Linked DNA regions of Homo sapiens. The protein of the gene in region 2 purifies or fractionates together with the protein of the main gene of each other region. This does not show direct contact. Each region holds a gene or a part of one and is shown on either strand. Other genes may lie near its edges.

What was found. Proteins that work in one complex are often made in the same cells at the same time.
Region 1: the proteins of NETO2 (region 2) and CCDC82 purify together in Homo sapiens (affinity purification with mass spectrometry; one large-scale study listed by BioGRID and IntAct). This does not show direct contact.

What each region holds. Positions count from the first base shown.
Region 1 is NC_000011.10:96,383,292-96,386,948, reverse strand, and holds part of CCDC82 (coiled-coil domain-containing protein 82), read left to right. Parts: exon of another isoform or gene 1-655; 5' UTR 656-695; exon of another isoform or gene 696-1,012; intron 1,013-2,187; 5' UTR 2,188-2,201; coding exon 2,202-2,987; intron 2,988-3,475; coding exon 3,476-3,657.
Region 2 is NC_000016.10:47,133,811-47,137,467, reverse strand, and holds part of NETO2 (neuropilin and tolloid-like protein 2 isoform 1 precursor), read left to right. Parts: intron 1-3,232; exon of another isoform or gene 3,233-3,398; intron 3,399-3,657. UniProt on the Homo sapiens protein: Accessory subunit of neuronal kainate-sensitive glutamate receptors, GRIK2 and GRIK3.

The DNA of each region.
Region 1 (3,657 bases), on a different chromosome or scaffold from region 2:
TGCTTAAAACCTGGAGGAGAAACTGGGTGGACGTATTGTAACGCAGTATAGTGTACACAAAACCATACTTTAATATAGAGATTTTTTTAAAGGGTAATTTTGACTACACACAATTTTCATCTTTGCTGATTTTAATATAAGCCTTTTGTAAGATGCAACCCAAGGGTAATTTCAAATAGCAGACTGCCCTGTTGACCAGAATTTGTTAGATTGCTATTACAATGCTGATTATATTTTATAGCAATTACTGACATAAGGTTATACTTTGGGCAATGGCTCATGCCTGTAATCCCAGCACTGAGGCCAAGGTGGGAGGATCACTTGAGGTCAGGAGATCAGGACATAGTGAGACCTCCATCTCTACAAAAAATTTAAAAATCGAAACATATCGCTTGAGCCCCAGGAGTTCAAGGCTGTAGTAATCTATGATCATGCCACTGCACTCCAGCCTGGACAACAGGACAAGACCTATCTCTTAAAAAAATAAAAGTTATATTTCATCCTACACGCTATAATTTCTGCTGTATAATTTTGGCAGCCCCCGTTCTGATTTTACATGAGGTGTTAACCATTATACAGAAAGTCTTATTGCCGTATAAACATACCAGAATTTGTACAATTAAATGAGCTGTATCCTCTCTTCCACAATCTATAGGAAAAAAGTAATCCTCTTGGAAAGCTGGAAACATAGTCCGGTAAGATTCCCATTGCTCAAAAAATTTTTGGCATTGAATTTTTGTAATTACCTTCAGAATTCGCAGCACATTTTTTGAAGATTTTTAATGGTAGTTAATTCTCATCTTCTTAAGTTGGATTTCATTTCTGCAAGCTGCTAACAGGTCCTTATAACCGAGACAAGTGAATGAAGTGGGTGTTAAAGTCACTGTTTGGGATAAAAAATGAAGTGTGATTATTTTCATATTTTTAGATTTTTTATAGTGTGTGGTTTATAGAAAGACTCCAGGAATATTCTGTGCTGTGGTGGAAATATTGGAATAATCAGCCTCATAAGGTGATTTCTTTGGTGGGGATAGCTGTCAGTTCAATATATACCTCTAACATGTAGTTTGAGGTCGGTCTCATTACATTGTCATATTTCTATTCCCTAACAACCACAGAACTACATATGTTATTTTTTCTAGTTATCTTACGTGTCACTAATTGTTCTTTTAATATATACTTGTGATAATTTTAATGGAATTCATTCTTTTCTAAATGATAAACTGACAGCTTTTGTTTTCCTTCCCAATACTATGCTCTGCTTTGCCGTGGAACTTACTTGTTTTATTCACTTAACTACATTATTGGATTGTTAGTTAAGTTTTCTATTGGTTATATTGTGTATTTAACTTTGAGGGGAAAGCCACTCCCATTTTACTAAGGTATAAAGAGGCTACAATCTTAGTGGATATATTATCTCTCAATTTTTCACTGCTGTCTTCTTTATGTCATTTGTTACTTTATAACTTTCTTCGTGTAAATTGATCTTTTATACTTTATATCATTTCTCTATTCAGAATCCTTTGCCTACAGGGTGAGTCATCCTGGTAATCCCATTCAGTTTTCTATTCTTTTCTCCTTTTTTCCAGCATAAAACTCTTTTTTATACATTTTAAGCCATGCTTATTTACTGAACATACCATCTTCTTTCTTAAAGCCAGAGTTTGCCCTTACCATATTACTTGCCTGACATCCCTTTTTCTTTCGTTCTTTCTGTTCAAATACAATGAATCCTTCAGAATGCTATTAGATCACATCTGTTCAAGATAAAGTGAAGCACTTGCCTTACTGATCTCCCTGCATCTTTCCACTTCTCTTGCAGTTATTTATGTTATTCATTTGATACTAAATATTACCTTGAAATTTTCTTAATTATTATATGTTTTAGATATTTTAGTTCTACATATAGATAATAATCTTCTGAAGGACAGCACCATGATTTTTCTATGTATCCCTTGCAGCACAACATACAACGTAATTCAGAGTAGATGTTCATATAATTATTTCATGGGCATTCAGTAAATTATTTGTTAAATTAATGTTCTACCATCTTCACTCAGATATTTCATGTGATTTTGTGTTTGTGGACCATTAAATAAAGCCAAATAAATATAATTTATACCATAAATGCATTCATTGCTCTAATCTGGTTATCACTGTTATATTCCTAACAACTTTATTTTATAGAAGCTTAAGTGAAAATGATACATGTTAGAAGACATGAAACAAGGAGAAATTCTAAGAGTCACGTGCCTGAGCAGAAATCTCGAGTTGATTGGAGGCGAACTAAAAGAAGTAGTATCTCACAATTACTTGATAGTGATGAAGAGCTTGATAGTGAAGAATTTGATAGTGATGAAGAGCTTGATAGTGATGAAAGTTTTGAAAATGATGAAGAGCTTGATAGTAACAAGGGACCTGATTGTAATAAAACACCAGGAAGTGAAAGAGAGCTCAACTTAAGTAAAATTCAAAGTGAAGGAAATGACAGTAAGTGTCTCATTAACTCTGGCAACGGTTCAACATATGAAGAAGAAACGAACAAAATCAAACATAGGAATATTGACTTACAAGATCAGGAAAAACATTTAAGTCAAGAGGATAATGATCTCAACAAACAAACTGGACAAATAATAGAGGATGATCAGGAAAAACATTTAAGTCAAGAGGATAATGATCTCAACAAACAAACTGGACAAATAATAGAGGATGATTTAGAAGAAGAAGACATCAAGCGAGGAAAAAGAAAAAGGCTATCCTCTGTGATGTGTGACAGTGATGAGAGTGATGACAGCGATATCCTAGTTAGAAAAGTAGGTGTTAAACGTCCCCGTAGAGTGGTTGAAGATGAAGGTTCTTCAGTGGAAATGGAGCAAAAGACTCCTGAAAAAACATTAGCTGCACAAAAGCGAGAAAAACTTCAGAAGCTCAAAGAACTCTCAAAACAAAGATCTCGTCAGAGACGCAGTAGTGGTAGAGATTTTGAGGTGTGTTATATTTTGTTGGATTTGTTATTGTTTTTCAGTTTTTTTCTTAAAGTATTTAATTTTTATAAAAAAGTGCTGAGTCCGTTCCATTTCTCAATAATTCTAGAATTTATTTTTTAATCAAGTATTCTTGAACATGTTTGATTACACTATTGTACGTAATATACTGTTTTATCATGAGCCTCAGTCCATCCTTTTTTAAAATTGAAAGACTATTTGTTATTTTATATGATCTTTCTTGTTTTTAACTTCTTATAATTCTAATGTCCATTTTAAACATTTTACATCACTTAACCAAGGTATATTCTTCTTAATAATTTCAAAAGTTCAGCATTTAATATGACAAAATTATTTATTTTTAACTTTAAAATATGAAGTTAATTACTATGGATCATTTTTTTGCTGTCAGATTTAATGTTTTAATTTTATATCGATGCTTACCGTTTTAATAGCACCATTTACTGAAGCATTTATTTTAATTTAATTAGGACTCTGAAAAGGAATCTTGCCCAAGCAGTGATGAAGTTGATGAGGAGGAAGAAGAGGATAATTATGAATCTGATGAAGATGGAGATGATTATATTATCGATGACTTTGTAGTGCAAGATGAGGAGGGTGATGAAGAGAATAAAAACCAACAAGGAGAAAAATTGACTACATCACAACTGAA
Region 2 (3,657 bases):
AACATGTCTCCTGCCACTACCAAAGGAGGGAAAAGGCCACCTCTCACTGTTGCTTTCAGTAATCTGCCATGCTCCTGTTGCAGTGGTACTCACAGTGTGGTCCCAGCTCCAGCAGCTTCTGCATCCCTAGAGAATTTGTTAAAAGGCAGATTCTCAAGCCCTGCCTCAGACCCAGTGGATCAGAGTCTCTGAAAGTACTCCCATCTGTGAGTTAATAAACCCAAGGTGATTATGATGCACATTAAAGTTTGAGGACCACGGTCACAGTGATTCAGTTCCCACACCTGGAAGTAGAAATGCTGGTGGGATTTGCACATTTTTGAGCCTTAATATATTCTACCAGATTAACCTCCAAAAAGTTGTGCCAGTTTGTAATCCAGTGGCATTATATGAGTATGTCAGTTTCCTATAGCCTGACCAACACTAGAATCTGTACATGTATATATGTATGTATGTTTGTATGTTTGTAAGGCTGAATTTTTGGGTTTTGGCACATTTTTATGATGGTCTAATCTTTTTTCCCCCATTTATTATTAGTTTTTATTTATGTGTCTGTCGTTAGTAAATGAAGGTGCTCTTCACCTCAAAATATATACATAATTCACCTTTTTTTTCCCAATCTAGTATTTATTTTTTGTTTTTAGCTTGAAGGCGAGATCTATTTTTATTTCAAAGAATTAATATGTTATCCCAGAACCATTTATTAAATCCATCCTTTCACCAAGGATTTCAAATACCATGTATATCATAATAAATTCTTGGGGCTGGGTGTGGTGACTCATGCCTGTAATCTCAGCACTTTGGGAGGCTGAGGCGGGCAGATCATTTGAGGCCAGGAGTTTGAGACCAGCCTGGCCAACACAGTGAAACCCCGTCTCTACTAAAATAGAAAAAATGAGCTGGCCGTGGTGGCGCATGCCTGTAGTCCCAGCTACTCAGGAAACTGAGGTACGAGAATTGCTTGAACCCAGAAGCAGAGGTTAAGTGAGCCAAAATCACGCCACTGCACTCCAGCATAGGCGACAGAGTGAGACTGTCTCAATCAGTCAATAAATAAAAATTAATTCTTGGATATATATATCTATTTCTGAGCTTTTAATTTTTTTCCATTTTGTTATCTGTAAGGTGCTGGAGAATAAGGACCTTGTCTGTTTGGTTCATTGCCACCAGGAAGTGACTCACTACCTGTTAGACAATGGGTTCCTGCATGTATTTAACAGATCATCTGTTTCTTCCTATGTCATTGCTACATTTTTTAATTACTGTAGCTTTACAATAAATATATCATATATTGTTTTTATTTATTCTATGTGATTTCTAAATTTTCTTTGGCCAGTATAACAAAGTCTTCAAGATGAGCATCAGAAACGTTTTGTTAAGTCCAAAAACAGGACCCACTAAGAGTTTGATTAAAATATTAAATGTATGGCCTATTGGAAAGACTCATTATCTTTGCAGCATTATTTTACTGCTCAGAAACATGTTACTGCTCTGTTTTATTCAGTATATTTATTGTTTATTTATTTTAGTTTTACTTTCTTCCCTTAATAGGTGTAATAATTTTTCAAATAATTCTCTTGAGGTTTTTAGGTTTTCAATAACATTGAAATCTATAAATAATAATTTTGTCTTCTTTCCAGTATTTATTGCATTCACTAGAATTGCCACTATTAAGTAATAGTGAAAAGAATAAATTTGACCTTTTTTTTTTTATTTTTTACAGTGGAAAGTAGGCCTTAAAATTGGAAGGCCTAGGAACAGAATTGTCTGCTTAGAGCTAAAATGACAGTGATTCAGGGTAAAAAGAGGAGGAATAAAGGGAGTGGCTTTGAGGATTGTTTAACAGCCTGAATAGCACCTGTCTTTTATCATCTGAGTGACTTCATTTTAGGTCAGATCTGTACACAGGTCTGACTAAATAAGACTAAATTCAACTCTAGAACCAGGAGTAACATCATAAATGGTGGACATTACCTTTTTCAAGCATCAAATCACAAGCAGTTCTCTGTACAATCAAATTGCATGGTTAAAGAGTTTAGAATTATTTTTGTGTAGATTTCTGCCTTATAGAATTAGCGCCTTCCTATATACATTATCATTGAATTCAAAGTGTGAGGTCTTCCTGTATTTGAGATATAATTGATCCTTTTGGTAAGAGGAAACAGTGGCACCTAGATTGGGAATAAAGACAGAACAAAGAACCACAGAACTGCTTCATGTGCTAAATAATTGCAGGGTTTAGCATTAATGGAATTTGTTTTAATATCTCAGCCTGATTATAACTCAAGCAGTGTACAAAGACCTTGTTATACAACTCAGGAAACTGTGTTTATAATGATACAGAATTTAGAATGGATTAATAGTCACAACTGTATTACCAAAAACTGTATCAGTACATCTTTCTATCCCTAATTGCTGTGCAGATTCGCCCTATTCTTTATACGTCGTTTTTATATTTAGTGGCACAGCTCATTTGGTCGATTGAGTTGTGAATAGCTAGTAATTACTTGAGAAAAAAAGAAAACTGTGCAGCCCTCTAAATAAAGTTGAAAAGAATATAATAGGCTATTTGGCCTTGCAACTTTATTTTCAGTATGATTGTTCTGCCTTACTTGTGTATTCTGTGCAAATTTCATAAAGCAGTTATTTTATACAAGCACATTTTTATTGGTCATTGTATACCGTAATTGTGCTGGCACAGTTCATCCCTTTGCCATAGTTGCCGTTGCTGTCTTGCCTTCAGTTTATTGGCCTCTTACATGCCCTGTCTGCTGGCTTTGTGTGGTTATTTGCTTATAGATGGATTTGTAAATGTCAAACTGGTAAATAGTTACACCTGTGATTAAGGAGGAATGGTATACTGCGCACGAAATATTGACCAGTGGCATATGATCTGAATGATATGCCTGGGGAGATAGTGTCTACTAATGAGATAAATTGACACAAATGGTTGGGTTATTTGCTGAATTATCAAATACCTACTATTACCTGACTTTTCTTTTTGATCATAAATCTTCTGTATTAAAAAATGTTTCAAAACTCCATTCTTCTAATCAGATCCAGTGTAAAGATGTGAAGAGTTCAAGATCTCAGCATAACGTGAGATCTTCAACACTACCATCAACCAAAAAAAGGGAAGGGGGAAATTAACGTTATTGAGAAAAGACAGAGGAGACACAGAGGTCAGCAAGGATGCAAGAAACCAAGGATGAAGAGGTCAAAGAATTAGATTTTAAGATACGAACTGAATAACAAGAGCTACCTCTTAACCATTTCTACGTTGGTGACTTTGGTAGTAGACACCCAGTACGTGCTATTGAGTGAACAGTGGTAACTGTCTACCAACCACTTGCACTAGCAGACTCCAGTGCCTCCACCTCCCTCACCCCTCACGTCCTGTAAGTTGCACTTGACTCTACACCTGAACCATGTCATTAGTTTCTCCTCCTTTCCCTTTCCACTGCTACCACTCTGCTTCAAAGATGGTAATGCAAACATGATCACCTTTCCTTCCTAATCTTCTCTCTTCTCATTAAAAGTATAGACCCCACACAACCATTAGGATTATTGGTCTAAAACACAGAAGTGATAATGTCATACACTTGTTTAAAAACCTACAAGGGCTTCTCATTATAGTTAGAAGTCCACACTTTTTAG